Regions from separate parts of the Homo sapiens genome. Here region 1 is linked to region 2. The links come from fine-mapping of genetic effects on gene expression. A gene starts in region 2. The other region holds a variant in brackets. All regions are shown on one strand. Distances are between the middles of the regions.

What was found. PIP is the estimated chance that this variant, and not a neighbour inherited with it, causes the effect.
Region 1: its variant is fine-mapped to the expression of CIRSR in whole blood (TOPMed, PIP above 0.99).

Annotation. Positions count from the first base shown.
Region 1 is chr2:174,465,547-174,476,057 of GRCh38, reverse strand. GPR155 (G protein-coupled receptor 155) reads left to right here. Exons shown (of 16, transcript NM_152529.7): 3 at 2,694-3,093; 4 at 5,503-5,668; 5 at 6,991-7,146; 6 at 9,431-9,514; 7 at 10,156-10,273. Among named protein-coding and RNA genes, the nearest start is that of GPR155, 16 kb to the left of the region's middle. The variant T/A (reference allele first, on the strand shown) is at 5,471.
Region 2 is chr2:174,389,290-174,399,326 of GRCh38, reverse strand. CIRSR (corepressor of RBPJ and splicing regulator) reads left to right here and starts at 3,615. Exons shown (of 10, transcript NM_004882.4): 1 at 3,615-3,776. The coding sequence starts at 3,705. It overlaps SCRN3 (secernin 3), which reads right to left and starts at 3,597. Exons shown (of 8, transcript NM_024583.5): 1 at 3,510-3,597; 2 at 885-1,052. The coding sequence starts at 1,043. RefSeq lists enhancers at 2,669-3,169, 3,667-3,716 and a silencer at 7,103-7,267.

The DNA of each region.
Region 1 (10,511 bases), 76 kb before region 2:
TGTTGCTTAAATTTGCACTGAGTTCTTAAAACAATGTAAAGTTCATTATGCGGTAGTGATTAAATGCTAGTGTGCCAGGAAAGTAAATTTCTGGAAAAAGGCATTAATATAAGGGGCTTTGAGTAGATCACAGAACTGTATAGCTGTGTTGTCAAAGGAAAACATGTTATGCATCTTATTGTTGTGGCTGGTTAGGAAAAATTCTGATACTCAGATGAAAACATAAGACTTTTCGAAAATATCTGCTCTATTATAAAAGTTGGTGGGCAGGTATGAACATCTTTCTCTTGAGATAAAATATCTCAAGAGAATCAGAAATATAATTATCTAAAAATAGTTATCAAAAGTGCTGCTTTTTGTTTAAAAGATGAAGCCTTATGAAACCTGAAAGAAAACCACTAACTTTATATAACTAGCATATCTAATTTGGAAACCAGTGGAAAGAACTTATAAAGTTTTATGTAATCAAATATTTTTTAGCCACTGCTTCATTTTGGAGATATTATAGATCTTGAATTTACTTAGCTGAGAAAATGGGGATTGAATCTGTTAAAAAAAAATAGGTTTTAGCTTTTATGAAAAAGGTGACCTTCTAAAGGTTACATAATCTAGTTATATAACTTTAATGGGACATGTGCATGACATTAACTGAACTTACATATCCTGAGTAAGTAAACAAGTGTATTTTCCTACCTATATCATTTTATCTTAGTGTAAATTGAGAAACCTAATTTTTTTTTTTTTTTTTTTTTTTTTTTTTTTTGAGACGGAGTCTCGCTCTGTCGCCCAGGCTGGAGTGCAGTGGCGGGATCTCGGCTCACTGCAAGCTCCGCCTCCCGGGTTCACGCCATTCTCCCGCCTCAGCCTCCCAAGTAGCTGGGACTACAGGCGCCCGCCACTACGCCCGGCTAATTTTTTGTATTTTTAGTAGAGACGGGGTTTCACCATTTTAGCCGGGATGGTCTCGATCTCCTGACCTCGTGATCCGCCCGCCTCGGCCTCCCAAAGTGCTGGGATTACAGGCGTGAGCCACCGCGCCCGGCCGAGAAACCTAATCTTTTACATGTTTTCACGTTTGCCTCTCTCCTTGTGAACGACTGTGGCTGTTCTTTTTTATCTTTCTCAACTTCAAATCAATTATAAATCAGCCTTTATTTGCATTAGATTGTATAATTTCGGGACCCATTGTCAAAAATGTGCTAGAGACCAGTTGTTTACTGAAAGGCCCTAAGTTGCTCTAATAAACTAAAGACTAGGTCACCAACCCTCACGTCTACCAGGAAACTGCTAGAAGTCTGATCCCACTCACTCACCTCCCTCATGAGATTAAAAAAACACATCTTATGCAGTGGTTAAGTCCTAAAGTCATCTTGTATATTCAAACTCTTGAAAATGCCCACCAAATACAGCACACATACTTTGTCTATATTGTACCATTTTTCATAAGTCTAACACAGCCAGATTTTTTTAGCTAGCATTGTTCTTCAATGAACAGCAGTTGAAATAATTTGTTTGCACTTGGAAACATGCTATGGGGGGTGGGGGGAAATGAAGCTTTTGTTTTCCCAAGAGGGTATGGTTGAATTTGTGTTAACTAAATGTGCATTGATGTGACTCTACTGTATTTCCCTCCCAAACATTGTAAGATCCACCTTTCTATCTCTACTCCTTAAGTATCTCCACTGGTCTTCTTTGAAGGCATTCATTCCTTTTCATTCCTCTCAAATGGAGGTTGTTCATTTTCCCATTGCCAGCACACCACATGAGCAGTGGAAGGTAGGACTGGCATCCCCACAGCTACTGTGGACCATTGCTAGACCATCCCTCTGCTCTGCTGTTAAAAACTGCTTTGAGGTTCATACTTTCCGGCTAGACCACTGATCCTCTCTGCTGTTACCTGCTGACCTCATTCTAGGCATTCCCTCTCATTTACCTTTATCCCAAGTTTTGTCATTGTCTTGTGAACTACCATGAAATTCTCTGCCCTGTCATTTCCTTGACCTCCTCTTCTCCAGTGATGTTTTCCTTTACTCCATTTCAGCCACTAAGTCCCATAGCCACATCCTGGACCTTGTCATCTGGAAAATATTTAACTGAGTAGCTCATTAGCTGTTTTACTCTGAACTCCCGCACTTCCAACTGTCCCTAATTCCTAGAGGCCTCCAAACATCTCCCATCTTCATTTCTTTTCTTACACAGCTTGGATTCCACATCCGTGCTCCTTTTTAGTTCCTGAAATAACTCCTACTCTCTCCTCAACCCTCTGTGATCTGACTTCTGTCTCTTACCACTCCAGTAAAACTGTTCTTTCCATGGATACCAATAAACACATTTTTGCTATTACTACTTAAATGTTTAGTTTGTCCCTAGATTTTTACTTTGAATTGTTTCTTCTAAAAATTCTACAATTCTGCTCATTTTTGGAGACTAATTTTAACCCTTAGATGGTAAAAATTAGTGAGGTTTAAAAATAATGTGTAAACTTGGTTATCATTTTATAAGCTATATGATATTTATTATGTTTTTCTTTTTTCAGCTTTATTACTAAAATGTACTTTTCCAAAATAGGCTATTTGGGTCATTTTGAAAATTTTAGATTTATCATTGCTATAAAGTACAGAAAATGTTATATACATAACATATATCTGTATTTCTGTGGTCATCATTTAAAAATCAATATTCTTGTTTTGCAGTTGAAGCTTTATATCAAACTACATACCCAGAATATCTCCAGTACATTTATTTGGTGGCACCAATATCTCTTATGATGTTAAACCCTATAGGGTTTATTTTCTGTGAAATCCAAAAGTGGAAAGACACTCAAAATGCTTCTCAAAATAAAATAAAAATTGTGGGACTCGGACTCCTGCGTGTATTACAGAACCCAATAGTATTTATGGTCTTCATTGGCATCGCCTTCAATTTTATTCTTGATCGAAAGGTACCTGTATATGTCGAAAATTTTCTTGATGGACTTGGAAATTCTTTTTCTGGATCAGCCCTATTTTATCTTGGTCTCACGATGGTGGGAAAAATAAAGAGACTGAAGAAGTCGGCATTTGTAGTACTAATTCTTCTCATCACAGCTAAACTGTAAGCATCACTTATTTAACTTGAGAATTGTACTTTTTGAAAGCCGTATTTAGCCAATTCATCAGGGGTATGTCTGCAACCATTTTCCCCTTTGAATATTAATAACCCCTCCTTGTAGAATAGTTGTGAGATAAAGGAAAATGTGATGGTGTATTGTGGAAAGTCATTTCCTTATTCCCAGTAGCTTATTCTTTCCATCTTACTGTCAGAGGATAAAGATGATGGGTTTCCCTTCAGCTTTTACATAAAGTTTACTCAGTATCTCCTCATGTCCCAGTTTGACAGTATTTTCAAATAAATTTTGCAGCATTTCTGACTTTTCCAAATCCATAAAGACCCTAAAGACAAAAGCATCTTAGTGATAACCAGAACAATAATTTCTAATGCAAACTTTTTTTCATGAATTTGGGAAAAGTATTTTGTAGTTCTGAGGTTGGCCAAATTTTCTAAATACAGCCAAGTCAATATGAATGATTATTATCAGCCATATGATCCTGGCTTGCCAAATGAAAAGTGCTCATCAACTTCTTTTTTGTTGTTGTTGTTTTTGTTTTTGTTTGAAACAGAGTCTTGCTCTGTCAACTAGACTGGAGTGCAGTCATGCGATCTTGGCTCACTGCAACCTCCACCTCGTAGGTTCAAGCTATTCTCCTGCCTCAGCCTCCCAAGTAGCTGGGATTACAGGTGCCTGCCACCACACCTGGCTGATTTTTATATTTTTAGTAGAGACGGGATTTCACCATGTTGGTCAGACTGGTCTCAAACTCCTGACCTCAGGTGATCCATCCATCTCGGCCTCCCAAAGTGCTGGGATTACAGGCATGAGCCACCGTGCCCAGCCTCAACTTCTTAGTTAATAGTTCTTCAGCTTACTTGGTCCATTAGCCATGGAGTTCTACATGATGGTGCAGGTGACATAATTTTACTGCAAGATTATCCCAAAGTACTTGAGGCATACTTAACTATGGAATTCCCCTCATGTATAGACAGTTATATTCATGAGACCAGTACAACATAATCTACTGTTTTCATAATAATAAAAATGAATATAAGTACTGAAAATTATTTATGGCGATGTTATGCTCTTCAGAAACAAAGTATTAGTATTGTGGAAGTAATAAGTATAGTTTAAACAATAATGGTATTATCAACTTTTGCTTATAAGTAGAATTTAAATATTCTAATTTTAAAGATGGGGGGTCTTTGATACTTAATTAGATATTTAAGTTTTTTAATTTAAAAAGTACAGATCAGAGTAGTTCTTTACTCCATCCCAGAGGGCCTTGCTAGGTGCTGCTGTGAAAATGTTAACAATCTTGGTCTTGCTGATTTTAAAGGAGAGCCCTATTTGCTCAACTACTGTGGATTTGCTCATTCTATGAAATCCTGAAAAATTTGTTTAATAATTGACTCTTCAACAGGTCTGCATTTCACTAGTTTTCTGCTCCATCTCAGTTGTTTTAGTTCCTTTGCTAATTTTTTTTTTTTTTTTTTTTACAAAGATGAAGAGCTACTTGAAGATACCTATTTTTCTACAGGATTTTGGAATCTTTTTTTTTTTTTTTTTTTTGAGACAGAGTCTTGCTGTGTCACCCAGGCTGGAGTACAATGGCTGGCATGATCTCAGCTCACTGCACCTCCACCTCCTGGGTTCAAGCAGTTCTCCAGCCTCAGCCTCCTGAGTAGCTGGGATTACAGGCATGTGCCATCATGCCCGGCTAATTTTTTGTATCTTTAGTAGAGATGGGGTTTCACCATGTTAGCCAGGCTGGTCTTCAACTCCTGACCTGAACTCGTGATCCGCCTGCCTCAGCCTCCCAAAGTGCTGGGATTACAGGCTTGAGCCACCATGCCGGCAGGATTTTAGAATCTTATTAAGCAATGTTGTTATTAACTGAACCATTTCAACCCCTAATCATGATAAAGTTCAGCTTTTTTTTTTTTTTTTCAAAACAGGAGTTTCTGTCTCTCTAGAATACTTTGAAAGAAAGAAAAAGAGTTTAGTGATTCTCTTGAAAGAAGTTTTTATGCAGATTGTCAACCTTCTTTCTTTCTTTGAACATTTCAGTAAACTGATAGAGGAAGCAAGAAAGTAGCTAGAATTGCAACTTTTACCATCTTTTGGCAAAAAACAAAAATTATTTGTAGAACCAAAAACATCTTTTTTTCCCTCCTAATCCCTGATGTGTGAGGTATTTCCAGAATATTGTTACACTTTAAATGGCTCCAAGTTGAATTCTTGATTTTTTTCAACAAAATGTGCCCAGGTAGACATGCACAGAATATGTGCATGCAAATAGACATACCTTCTGGGCAGGAGAACCTGATGCCAAATTCACCAGAGCAGCCTGCTACTGGGGACAACCATGCTTTGATA[T/A]CAGGTAAATGATGTTTTTCTTTTTTCTTCAGTCTGGTGCTGCCACTTCTGTGCAGAGAAATGGTGGAACTCTTGGACAAGGGCGACAGTGTGGTGAACCATACAAGTTTATCAAATTATGCATTTCTGTATGGTGTATTTCCTGTAGCACCAGGAGTGGCTATCTTTGCAACACAATTCAACATGGAAGTAGAAATTGTATGTATATAGTACTTTCTAAGTTTGATGGTGTGTTTAGTCGAAAAAAATTTTTAAATTCATTTCAAATTTTTTAAAATTCTTTTTTAAAAATGAAAAAATAGAGACGACGGGGGTCTCACTATGTTGCCCCAGGCTGGTTTCAAACTCCTGCCTTCTGCCTTGGCCTCCCAAAGTGCTGGGATTACAGGCATGAGCCACCGTGCCCAGCCCATTTTAATTTCTAAACATAGAAAGCAATGTTGTTTTTTATGAGGTCCAGCACTTTGGGAGGCTGAGGTGGGCAGACCACTTGAGGCCAGGAGTTTGAGACCAGCCTGGCCAACATGGCGAAACCCTGTCTCTACTAAAAATACAAACATTAGCTGGGTGTGGTGGTAGTTGCCTGTAATCCCAGCTACTTGGGTGGCTGAGGCACAAGATTTGTTTGAACCCAGGAGGCAGAGGTTGCAGTGAGTTAAGATTGCACCACTGTACTCCAGCCTGGGTGACAGAGCAAGCAGCATTGTTTTTTATGAGAATTTGATGCCTATAAGCTATCTCATTATAAGAAATAGGCATCATGTAACATAATGTAACAACAGTCATTTAATCTGGGGTCTTTAGTCAGCCCTGACTTTTTTTAATCAGTTTTTTTAGTTTTAACTATTTTATTTCTGTACTTAGACAGAAACCTAAAAATTATTTACAGAAAGGTAACTTTGAAATTTTGAAGAAAAAAATGCCTATTTTATCATTGATAATTTCAAGCACCAGATGCAAAATACTGCATAATAACTGCAGCAGATAGCTAAAATCAATTGACACCAAATTATTAACAGTGTCTAAATGTATTGTAAATGGTATCTACAGCATCAGAGTAAATGATTTTTAAATATAATACAAAGGAACTAAGTTGTTTAATGGAGGTCAATTCTGTTATTTAATCTGTAAAATAAATATTTGCATGGTAATTTTCTTTTTTTGAATTCCTTTTCTTTTTTGCCACATAGTTTGTGAAACAGGTTTATTTATATCATTGCTACAGTTTATTTTCTAGAACTTAGAGGATAACTAACCATCAACAGTAAATTTCTAGTATTTATTATGCGTAAATATAAATTAAGCATAGATTAGAAGAGGAACCAAGGTAACTCAATTGTATTTTGTATTAAGGATTCTCAGAAAGGGGAAGTATGGTATTGGATAACATGCTGGATTTTATAATGTCTTTACTGTGTCTCATTTTTATTTTAGAATGCTTTAGTGTGCCGTGGTTATTTAAAGTTTAAAATACTGTTTAATTGAGATTGTAACTCCTCTGTTTGATTTCATTTTTGCAGATAACCTCAGGGATGGTGATAAGCACATTTGTGTCTGCTCCCATCATGTACGTTTCTGCCTGGTTACTGACCTTTCCCACTATGGACCCTAAGCCATTGGCATATGCCATCCAGAATGTTAGTTTTGATATAAGTATTGTCAGCCTGATCTCCTTGGTAAGTACGTTGCATCCCAAAATGAATGGAAACCACAGAATGAGTTTTGAGAATAGACTGTTAACAGAAGGGATTTAAAAATCTAGTTTCTTATGAAATAAAGAAAGCTAAAGCCTGCCCATAAAATATAATGTCAGCCTTCTGATTAACTGAGTTTTGTTTTTCTATTTGGGAGTTAGAGTTCTATAGCAGACAAGACATGAGATTTAGTCACACCTGGATTTTATTCCTGGCCCTCTCACAAACTAGCTGTATGCCTCTGTGGAGTTACCTTAACCTCTCTAAATTTCTGTTTTCCAGCATAAAATAATGACAATAATTTCACATATTTCCATGGGTTTTTTAAGGGGTTACATGAAATAATATATGTGAAAAGCATTCTGCAAATGATGAATCACTATAGAATTCCTAGCTGTTCTAGAATCATGGGGTCAGAAGGTATCTTTGAGTTCAAGTCCAACCGCCTATTTAATGTTAATGAAACTTTTGGTTACTTCTCAAACTGAATATATCTAACTAAAATTAAATAATTAAGTATATGACAGCTAGAGTATCTTACAGATCAAATGGCCTATTGAATTCATGTTAGTAAAACTACAGATATTCTGGCTGAAAAAAAAGACAATGTGTACAGTTAATGGAGGTGGGGGTGAATATGTATATTGGTAACAGATAAATGTGTGATTAATTTTAAAGAAATTCCACCTCTGTCACATGTTCTTAAAATCTACTACACCCATTCATAACAGGGCAGTTTGGGGAAAGAGACCATATACATTTCAGTTGGCAATGAGGAAAGAAGGAAGTCGCCAGGATACTTACCTGGCCAATACGTAGGTAGAATGGAAACCCAATCCTTTAAAATATGAGGAATGTGATCTGGCACCGTGGCTCATGCCTGTAATCCCAACACTTTGGGAGGCAGAGGCAGGCAGATCACTTGAGGCCAGGAGTTCGAGACCAGCCTGGCCAACATGGAGAATCCCCATCTCTACTAAAAATATAAAATTAGTCAGGCATGGTGGTATGCATCTGTAATCCCAGCTACCTGGGTGGCTGGAGGCACAAGAGTCACTTGAGTCTGGGAGGCAGAGGTTTCAGTGAGCCGAGATCGCACCACTGCACTTCAGTGAGACTCTGTCTCACACACACACAAAGAATAAAAAATGAAGAATGTAAGATGATTAATCTTAAAGGTGTGTGGTATGTGTTGTTTGAAGTAAAACAGCCTGGCATTTAGATACCCCATGAGACAATATGTTGGAAATAGAAAAGGAAAAAAACTTAGAATAGTGCATTATTATAACTATCTCCCACTAAAGCTCCTTCCCTGAATAGTTGTCTGTGACCCTGTGTCCCACCCCAGACACGGAAGGTAGGCATAGTTAGAACATGGCCCTGGTCAAGGGATTAGTTCTTTTTTGTTGAGACAGAGTCTCCCTCTGTTGCCCAGGCTGGAGTGCAGTGGTATGATCTTGGCTTGGCTCACTGCAACTTCTCCCTCCTGGGTTCAAGCAGTTCTCCTCCCTTAGCCTCCCAAGTAGCTGGGATTACAGGCATACACCACCACACCCAGTAGAGGTGGGGTTTCGCCATGTTGGCCAGGCTAGTCTCGAACTCTTAACCTCAAGTGATCCGCCTGTCTGGGCCTCCCAAAGTGCTGGGATTACAGGCGTGAGCCACTGCACCTGGCCAAGGCATTAGTTTTTTTTTGTTTTGCTTTGTTTTGTTTTGTTTTGTTTTGTTTTGTTTTTTGAGATGGAGTCTTGCTCTGTCACCCAGGCTAGAGTGCAGTGGTGCAATCTTGGCTCACTGCAACCTCCACCTCCCAGGTTCAAGCAATTCTTCTGCCTTAGCCTTCTGAATAGCTGGGATTACAGGCGCCCGCCACTGTGCCCAGCTAATTTTTGTATTTTTAGTAGAGACAGGGTTTCGTCATGTTGGCCAGGCTGGTCTCGAACTCCTGACTTCAGGTGATCCACCTGCCTTGGCCTCCCAAAGTGCTAAGATTATAGGAATGAGCCACGATGCCTGGCCACATAAGTTCTTAAAGACCCTGTAATTTTTGGAGAGTTAATTTATTATGGGATCTCTCCATGCTTGTTATTTTACATTGGTTATAATAATTTACCTTTTTGGAACTAGACAGATTAAATAAAATATTGGAAATTCTTTCCGAACCAGGACAAAGAGGGTTATTTAAAGAGGCTAATCATTGTGTTATTTAATAAGTAATTATAAAGATTAAGAAACATGAATAACTTTTGAACCTTTTGTCTTCAAGATCTGGTCTCTGGCTATTCTTCTTTTGAGTAAGAAATATAAACAGCTTCCTCATATGCTTACAACTAATTTACTCATTGCTCAGGTTAGTAAAACTACTGATATTTAGAACTATGTTTTTCTAATGGATTATTCTACTGTAGAGGAGAAAATAACTTTGCTAGGTTTTTCTAGTTATGAAGTCAGAAGTATTACCAAATGCAGTCAATTACAGTTTGATTACAACTACTATACGCCTAACATATTTAATATTGCAAAATGTCTTAAACTATCTAAAGTTGAGGCTAATAATGGCATTTGATGATAACTTTGCATTTTTTAATAGAAACAATTTAATCATTAATAATTGAACTCTTTCACAATCATTTTTCTAATTAATCTTTGCATGTCTCAAATTATAATGGAAAGAACTTTAGCAATTTTAATGTAAGCCATTACTAAATACAGGTATAAAATTAATATTTAGAATGAAGTCATCTGTTTCAATTGGATATGTATATTGTCAAAGGCTCTGTTATAAAATGGATTTTTAACATAAAGTTTGAAGTTTTAGTATAAGTAGTGTGTAATACTTGATAATTATTCACAAAAAATTTTAAACAAATAATTATATTTGCTGTGAATGAAAGATGAATATGGCTGGCTTAATTGGAATTTTCTGTTGCAGTATTGAATTATATGGTTTTCTTAGCTATTTACAAAGTCTTTTAATAATTTTTTCCTTAGTCTATTGTCTGTGCTGGAATGATGATATGGAATTTTGTTAAAGAAAAAAATTTTGTTGGACAAATTTTGGTGTTTGTTCTATTGTACAGCTCCCTCTATAGCACCTACCTGTGGACAGGTGAGTTGGATTATGAATGGAAATTGAGATCTGTTCCCCACCCCACCCCATTCCTAATAGCCCTGAGCTTCTAGTGATCTATTTGAAGTCTGGTAGTACAGGATCAAGGCATGCACTGAGGCAGATCAGCCCACCCACAGAGGCCATCGGCAAAGCTGAGTTCTGTTTCCTAATGTACTCTATTCCTGCCTGGGCTTAGAGCCTTGTCCAGTCACATGGTCCTTTTCCCCAGGGCCTG
Region 2 (10,037 bases):
CCACTGGTTTACAGGACAGGCTATATTTAAATATGAAGAAATAAAGTGGAAGTGGTATCACAGATGAATAAGTGGTCTTAGCAAAAGAAAAAAATATGGCATAGGATACAGAAAAAAGTCTAATATTTAATATGTTTTAATATTAGAATATCAATAAAATAAAATCTAAAAAGTATGAATTAGCAACAATAGCATAATTTGAAGCTCTCATTTTAAGTTCCACATTAAATGGGTTTTTAAAATAAGTTTTTAAAGGATCCTTTAATTAATGTGTATACTACCAAGTGACTGCATAAAATGTATATTGATAGTGTTAACATAGGGCCTAATAAACCTTTTTTGATGTGTCATAAAACTGTCATTCCTAAAGTCTGGGATGACTTTCCTATTCTACATCAAGTAGAACCTAAGCCAATTCAGAATCAGAATCCTTTTTGTCCATCAAATTCCAGCTAACTCCAAGCTGAATTAAATGTTCATTCTCTTCCGCTGCCACAGCATGCTACTGTTACTTAAATTTAGCATTTAAACCATCCTATTTTATAATGGGGTATAATGCATACACATCTTATTGCTATACTAGACTCTAAGCTCCTGGAACAGAGTCTTGACAGCTGACTTTAAATCTCTTGCCCTATCTAACATGCTTGCATATGGAAAGCATTCAAATATTTATTCAAACAATGGATAATTTTATTATTGTTATTTCAACGTCCTCCGAATCACTGAAATAAAAGATCACAGTTTATTTCTGACTCATTTATTTTTCAAATGTAAACTCCTCAATTTTAACTTCTACAGTTTCTTCCAAATTGCTATGTATAGAAATAACTTTATGATATTTTTAAAAGGCATATTGCTAACAAAACATTTATTTCACCTACCTTAAGACGTTCTCCCAGGTTATCATGAACTACAGCAGGAAAATAAACCACCTCTTGTACTTCATCATAGAGTCTATCTGAATTTTTTCCAAAAATAATCCTGTTATCGACTGTTGCTGGAGGTAATGCCACGAAAGTGTCACAGGAAAAAGGTTCCATTTTTTTTAACTAAAAATTATACAGATGTTTTAAAATAAAAAGAACACTTTTAAGTATATAAAAATAAAGAGTTTTACTCAATGACCAAAGGATATTATTGCCATATCTAATTAAGGATGTTCATTAAAGCTTTGATTTTTTTATTTTTATTTTTTGGAGACAAGGTCTAGCTCTTTCACCCAGGCTGGAGTGCAGTTGTATGATCAGGGCTTACTGCAGCCTGGAACTCCTGGGCTCAGGAGATCCTCCCCCTTCTGCCTCCCAAAGCCCTGGGATTACAGGCATGAGTGACCGTGCTTGGCTGTTCATTAAAGTTTTAAATTTTGTATACTACAGCCTAAAAATCAGTAAGAATATGACTTGGGACTCAATCTGGTACTACAACTCAGTAAGAAAATGGCAATGAGAACTACCTTCTTCTACTGTATAGTTCACATTTATTCTCTAAGACCTTTCTCTCCTAAAGTCTTCCCTGAATTTCGTTTCACCATTTCCATATTTGGGAATCCGTGTACCTAGCTCTATTGTTGTAAAGGCTAGATTCCATTACATTCGTGTATATATAAATCCCTTTACTGGACAATGAGATCCTTGAGGGCTGGGAGTATGTCTTACTAATCTTTATATTCTCTTTGCTGGAACTTGTCTTATGGAAAAAAATCTTACGTGCCCAGTACTTCCTCAAAGGAAGGAAGAAGGGGTCTTATTTGAGCTGGGAAATAATACACATTATAATTCTGATGAGACTGAAATTTTGAAACAGACTCATTGATTCAGACAAAAATATGTCAATATAATTCCAAATTGCTGATATTTCTAGGAGAAAGTTCACATATTTAATTTATAAATCGCAATTATATACTTTAATATCTAGATTACCTCTTCAGTTGTAACTTGGAAAATCTTAGATCTTCACTTATAATAGAACACCTAAAGGTCCTTATTTTGCTGCCAGAACAGACACATTGTTTTACAGAGTTTCCTTCTTTCCTTTAATAATGGCAAAACCTTAAAATGGCTTTACACAGGCAGATGCTAGCAACTTAAAAACAAAATTTAAATATAATAAATGTTTCCTTAAAAAGAAAAGAAAATGACTAAATAAAAACTTCAGACTGAAACTCTTAAGGGTTTTCCTCTTCTCCTCAGTGACGAGAAGTCTGATGTCTTGATGGCTTCTGTTATTTTCTTTCTGTATTTCAACTCTTATGTCCTGGATCTCCTTCTATTTGTGTTTTATAGTTAGTTCTATCACTATATAACTTTGGCAGACTATTTAATCTCTCTCTTACCTATGCCTTCTGCCTCATCAGAAAAATAAGACACTATTTGATGGGCTGTTATGAGAACTTAATAAGGCAACACGTAAAGTGTTTTGCACAGTGCATAGAACATAGTAGATACTCACATGAAAGCTGTTATTGTTATTATTTGGTAGGAGAGAAAATTTCTCATAAAGGCTTATTCGTTTTTTGTTTTTTTTTTTTGATGGAGTTTAACTCTTGTTGCCCGGGCTGGAGTGCAATGGAGCAGTCTTGGCTCACTGCAACCTCCGCCTCCCGCGTTCAAGTGATTCTCCTGCCTCAACCTCCCGAGTAGCTGGGATTACAGGCGCGTGCCACCACACCCGGCTAATTTTTCGTGTTTTTAGTAGAGACGGGGTTTCACCATGTTGGCCAGGCTGGTCTTGAACTCCTGACCTCAGGTGATCCACCCACCTTGGCCTCCCAAAGTGCTGGGATTACAGGCGTGAGCTACCGCGCCCGGCCAAGGTTTATTCTTAACATTACCCTGATAGAGAACTTGGTTGGTGGATCACCTGCTGCAGTAGCAGCCACGTCCACTCAAAAACCTGGAGTCCCAAGGGCCATCAAGCTGCAATAGTAACCTGAGCTGCCTAACTGGGGTCGTAGGGAAAGCTAAGGAAACTTGCCCCCTGGTTAGAATTGCACCTAGCCCACTGAGGAGGTGAAGCCTTGAGAGATTTTACCAACTCCTAACGCGTATTCGTCATTCAATAAGTATTTATTGAACGTCTTTCGGCGCCAGTACCGTACAGCTGGGTACAAAATAGACAGGGCCTCCGTTCTTGCAGAGCTGTCTGTCATTCTATTTCACGCGCTCTTAGTTCAGCCGGCGCTTTCAGAAACATCATATTGTTGGATTCTCGCAAGCATACTACGGTTAGGGCCGGAATTATTATCTTCATAACATAGATGAGAAAAACAGTGCAGAAAAGCTTTTGCAGCTCGAGTCAGAGTCCACAGAAAGTAATGGGCTCGAGCTTCAAGCACCTTTGGTCGAAGGGCCGCCGCGGTCCACCCCGCACCCCGGCCCTGGGCGCTCAAACCGCAGCCGGTGCAGCTGGGCTCCGGAGCCCCTCGGTCAAGCAGTGCCGCGCCACAGTTGGGTCTTCCGGGTTTCTGTCTCAACTATGCACGCCCCTCCCCCGTGCGCGCCCCTCACCTGGCCTCCCAGCTACCCGAAGTGACAGGTGGACGGAGGGAGGAGTGGCCAGTGGAGGCATCAGTTGCCGGAAGCTGTCACCTTTGATCTCGGAAGTTCCCCCTTGCTGCTGGAAACGCAGTTCCGGTTAGGCGGCTGAGTTTGTTTACGTTGCTAACAGATCTAGCCCCTGCTTTCCCTAGTTCCAGTTCCAAGATGGGGAAATCCTTCGCCAACTTCATGTGCAAGAAAGACTTTCATCCTGCCTCCAAATCCAATATCAAAAAAGTGAGTAAACAGACCCGGGGAGGGATTAGGCCCACAGGGACCGCCTTCCCAGAGGCTGCTGGAAGTGAAAGTGATGGTGTCTCTGAGATCCCTAGGACAGCCTCCGCTTCTCTAGGCCTAAAGCCCTGGTGGTCTCGCCTTTCTCTGCTGAGCAGCTCGCTGACGCAGCGGGTCCTCAGCGTTTATTCTGCAACAGCGAGGAGACCGGTGGCCTAGAGAATCTTTGTCGGCCAGAATGCAAATCCATAATATGCGAAGACTAATGTCAAAATTCCTCAGTACTTCCTTCAGCTGATTCTGGTTTTTTGTCTTTTCGGATCCCAGGGATCACGGCTTCTGAACTCTACTTTTCTGTACAAAGAAGCCTCCCCGTTTACTTAAGATAGATCTTTAAAAAAATTACCTAATAATCTAGTGTCTTTTTGATGACTAAACTCGTTGAAGTTTAGTGTTTTACATAATTACAGGTCTACCAGTTGTAATACTTTGGTGAATATCATAGTAATGAAAAGCAAAAGAGTGAAGTAGAAAGAATCAGCTTTGGAGTCAAACCTGGATTCTAGTTATTCGAGCAGTCACTTTTAGCCTTAAGACCTTGCACAAAATATTTGTAATATCTGACCCTCAGTCTTCTAATCTGTAAATTAAGGATGATTGACTTAATTGTGAGGATTAAGTGAAATAGTGAAGATAAAGGATTTGAAACAACGTAGGCATCTATCACTGTGTCCACTACAGAGAGGAGGTGCTCAATAAAATGTTGATTGCCCCTACATAGAAACTTGTGAAAATAACTAAGCTTTTATTTGTTTTTAGAACGAGTTGAGGTGATGAGATACTGCTATATACTCTCACTTCTAGACCAGTGATTCTCAACTTTTTTTTCACTGTTACCTTCCTAAGGAGTCTTATTAAACATTTTTTCTTAATAACTCCCCCATGAAATTTTAATAACACAGATACACCTTGAAAGCTCTTTGGTAATCATCCAGCCCCATCTCCTCATTTTATAAATGAGGAAACAAATTTGCCAAGAGTTACACAGCTAGTTAAATGTTGTACCAGAACTAGGATCTGGAACACCTGATTAACCCAGTGATTTTTTTTCCACTGCACCAGTTTGTGTTTGTGTGGTTGCAACTGTGGGAGGGAGAGGTTTCTTGTATTTGGTTGGCTCAATAACTTTTGACACCAAACACAGACATTTCCTTTCTCTGCATACTTAGGGGGTCAGCTGTTACTATTTTTACAAGAATGAAGAGATTAGATGGAATTCAGGTGCTTGCTTATTTGCTGTTTATATTTAGAGACAAATATACCTGAGAAATCATAATTTTTTACTGGAACTTTTGACATTTCGCTTTATAAATTTCAATGTATCAGCTTTCTTACAAGAAAAAAGAAATCCACAGAGAATAACTTTTGCAAGTCCGCTATGAGAAATTCAGTAAAGCAGTTATAGGCTTAGAACCTACATTCTTCTCATCTGTGTAAAGTGTTATGTAAAATGTACCAAATATTGTTGGCCTCTTTGATCTGTTTTATACTTTTCCCAGGATAGAGGAGAAGAATGAAATGTTTTTGATTAGCAGACCTTTCTAGATAGTTAACACTTTATGGGGAGAGGGGGTGACCTCTAGCATTCTTTATTAACTAAGGATAAAGGAACTATATTAAATGAAGATAAATAGAAAAATTTATTAGGGTAGGAGGAAACTTTTGGAGGTGATGGATATGTTTATAGTGTAGATTGTGATGATGGTTTCACAGGGATATACTTGTCACCAAACTCAGGTTGTATACATTAAATATGTACAGCTTTTTATATGTCATACTCCAGTAAAGTTTTTTTTTTTTTTTAATAGAAGTGGAAGAAACAAAGGAGTTTGATCAAAGAGTGCAAAAGAGTTCCACCATGAAAATTTTAAGGGCCAGGTATGGTGGCTCATACCTATAATTCCAGCACTTTGAGAGGCCAGGAATTCAAGACCAGCATAGGCAACAAAGTGAGACCCCATCTATATTTAAAAAGAAAGAAAGAAAATTCTAATTGTAAAATTAGGCATGTTGGGTTTATTAAAGTCCAGTAGGTTCTTTTTTTCCTTGTTTGTTTTCAGTTTCCCAAGCTTATAAAAAGTCCAGTAGGTTTTAAGGTCTCATTTGTTCACCAAAAATAAGAGTGAATGCTGTATATCTGCTGGTCACTCTGTTGTGTATTGTTATGCGCTGCCTCAATCATTTATGTCACAGGATACACTGTTTTGTTCAGCTGTTCTTTTTTTTTCTTGATTTTGTTAATGAAGGAAGCAGTTAATTTACATTGTGGTCCAAGCTCTTTAGTCTTCTTGTGGACTGGCAAACAGTTCATAAACTGGCTATTGACAATTGCATCACTGTAAACTCCCTTTTTTGTGAAACTCTCTGTTCCCTTAGCTGTAATAACTACTCTCTTCTAGTTTTCCAGCTCTCTTATTAGACTGTTCTTTTCCCATCAACTTCACTGGATCTTTATTCTTAGCCTGCTCCTAAAATATAAGTGTTCCCCAGAGTTTCATCCTTGGCCCACTTCTTGCTTACTTAGTATGCTTGCCCCAAGCAATCACATCCAACTAGCCTGTTTTAACTAGCCTGTTTACTCATGACTCAAATCTGCAGTCCCAGTTTTCTCTTCTTAACTTTGATGTGGCTCAAGACAGCTATCTACTAGACATTTGCATCTTGATGTCCTATAGGCACCTCAAACTCAACATATCTGATATAAAAGTTTTTTACCCCAAATCAGCCCTTTTTATACTTGCTATCTCATATGGGTAGAAATATAGATAGTAAAACAGTCCCTCATCCTGTTGCCCAAACCAGAAGCTCAGGATTCATCCCTTTTCCCATCACTCCTTTATCTAGTCAATCACTGAATGCTATTGGTCTTACCTTCCAAATATCTCTTGAATCCATCTTTCCTTTCTGTCACTGCTGCTTGTGTCTTAATTCAGACCCTCATCATCTTTCACCTATATTGTTGCATTTCCTAAGTGGTTCTACTGCCTCCAATCTTGAGTCCTCTCAAATCCATTCACTACACAGCCATCAGAATAGTCATTTTTCATTTTAACAGCTCTGCTGAGATAAATTTACATATCATACAAACACCCATGTAAAATGTACAATTTAGTGGTTTTTAAAATGTATTCATGGAGTTAAGTAATCATTACCACAAACAATTTTAGAACTTTGTCATCACCCCAAAAAGAAACCCCCGCTGGGCATGGTGGCTCACACCTGTAATCTCTGCACTTTGGGTGGCTGAGGTGGGTGGATCACCCGAGGTCAGGAATTCAAGACAGCCTGGCCAACATGGTGAAACCCTGTCTCTACTAAAAGTACAAAAATTAGCTGGGTGTGGTGGCGGGCGCTTGTAATCCCAGCTACTTGGGAGGCTGAGGTGGGAGAATCGCATGAACCCGGGAGGCGGAGATTGCAGTGAGCCAAGATTGCGCCACTGCACTCCAGCCTGGGTGACAGTGAGACACTGACTCAAAAAAAAAGAAACCTGCATACCTGTTAGTCACTCCCATTTTTCCTTAACTCTTCTCCCTCTCTCCAGCCCTAGGCAAGCACTAATCTACTTTCTGTTAGTGGATTTGCCTATTCTGGAAATTCATTTAAATGGAATCATGCAATCTGTGGTCTTTTTTGACTGGCTACTCTCACCATAATGTTTTTGAAGTTTATCCATGGTATGGCATGTATTGGTACTTTTTCCTTTTTATTGCTAAATAATATTCCATTGTATGAATGTAAGTTATTTCGATAGAATTGTCTTTTTTTAAGCACAAATCTGATCTCTTTCAGCCTGTTATTAAAATATTACAGGATTGAGTCCAAGTAATCTCACTCCATCGTTTTTCTCCTTCTCCCCTCCTACTATTCTCCCACCTCAGATTTATTTATTTATTTATTTTTTGAGATGGAGGCTCACTCTGTTGCCCAGGCTAGAGTGCAGTGATGCAGTCTCAGCTCACTGAAGCCTCTACCTCCCAGGCTTAGGTGATTCTCCTGCCTCAGCTTTCCGAGTAGCTGGGATTACAGATACACACCACCACGCCTGGCTAATTTTTGTATTTTTAGTAGAGATGGAGTTTCACCATGTTGGCCAGGCTGGTCTCAGACTCCTGACTTAAGGTGATCTGCCCACCTCAGCCCAACCTAAGATTTTATATGTTAGTAATATTGAACTACTTACGTTCTATTTTATATCTCTGGGCCTTTGCCTGAGTCATTCTCTCTGCCAGTTATATCTTGCCCTGTTTTTTTCCTTGGCCATGCCTTGATCCTTTTCAAAACCCTGTCAAATGTGTGTGAAATTACCTGTGTATTGAGTTCTTGCAGCAAAATTTTTAATAGCAAAATACTGGAAATTTCTTAAGTGCCCATTTATACAGTATGAGATAAATAAATTATAAATTATGGTATAGTCCCACAATATGCAACTTTACCACCCAAAAGAAGAAAGTGTTTGTTTACTGATCCATATTAGTCTTGTATTAGTATTAGTCTGTTCTCATGCTGCTATGAAGAAATACCTGAGACTGGGTAATTTATAAGGAAAGAATTTTAATTGACTTGCAGTTCTGCAGGGCTGGGGAGGCCTCAGGAAACTTAAAATCATGGCAGAAGGGGAAGCAAACACGTCTTTCTTCACATGGTGACAGCAAGGAGAAATGCCGAGCAAAAGAGGAAAAGCTCCTTTTCTGATGGTTTTATCCATCAAATTTCCTGAGAACTCACTCACTATCACGAAAACACCATGGAGGTAACAGCCCCTTTTATTCAGTTACCTCCCATCGGGTTCCTCCCACGATACGCGGGGATTATGGGAACTACAATTCAAGATGAGATTGGGTGGGGACACAGCCAAACCATACCATTCCACCCCAGCCCCTTCCAGATCTCATGTCCTCACATTTCAAAACACAATCCTGCCCTTAACAACCAAAGTCTTAACTCATTCCAGCATTAACTCAAATGTCTAAGTCCAAAGTCTCATGTAAGACAAGGCAAGTCCCTTCCACCTATGAGCCTGTAAAATCAAAAGCAAGTTAATGACTTCCTGGATACAACAGGAGTACAGGCATTGGGTAAATACACCCATCCCCAATGGGACAATTTGGACAAAACAAAGGGGCTACAGGCCCCATGCAAGTCCAAAATCCAATAGGGCAGTCATTAAACCTTAAAGTGCCAAAAGGATCTCCTTTGACTTCATGTCTCATATCCAGGGTGTGCTGATGCAAGAGGTAGGCTCCCAAAGCCTTGGGCAGCTCTGCCCCTGTGGCTTTGCAGGGTATAACCCCTCTCCTGGATGCTTTCATGGGCTGGTGTTGAGTGTCTGTGGCTTTTCCAGGCACATGGTACAAGTTGGTGGATCTACTATACTGGGGTCTGGAGGACAGAGGCCCTCTTCTCGCAGCTCCACTAGGCAGTACCCCAGTAGGGACTCTGTGTGGGGGCTCCGACCCCACATTTCCCTTCCGCACTGCCCTAGTAGAGGTTCTCCAAGAGGGTTCCACCCCTGCAGCAAACATCTGCCTGAACATCCAGGTGTTTCCATACATCTTCTGAAATCTAGGCAGAGGTTCCCAAACCTCAGTTCTTGCCTTCTGCGCACGTGTAGGCCCAACATCACATGGAAGCTGCCAAGGTTTGGGGCTTGCATTCTCTGAAGCAGTGGCCATAGCTGGAGTGGCTGGAATGCAGGGCACGAAGACCAAAGGTTGTACCCAGCAGTTGAGAGGCTGGACCCGGCCCAGGAAACCACTTTTTTCCTTCTCCTAGGCCTCCAGGCCTATGATGGGAGGGGCTGCTGTGAAGGTCTCTGACATACCCTGGAGACATTTTCCCTTGTCTTGGTGATTAACATTCGACTTCTCATTATTTATGCAAATTTCTGCAGCCGGCTTGAATTTCTCCCCAGAAAATAGGGTTTTCTTCTCTATTCCATTGTCAGGCTGCAGAATTTCCAGAATTTTATGCTGTGCTTCCTCTTGAATGCTTTACTGCTTAGAAATTTCTTCTACCGGATACCTTAAGTCATCTCTCTCAAGTTCAAAGTTCCACAGATCTCTGGGGCAGAGGCAAAATGCCACCAGTTTCTTTGCCTAGCAAGAGAGACTTTTACTCCACTTCCCAAAAGGTTTCCCATCTCCATCTGAGACCACCTCATCCTGGACTTCATTGTCCATATTACTATCAGCATTTTGGTTA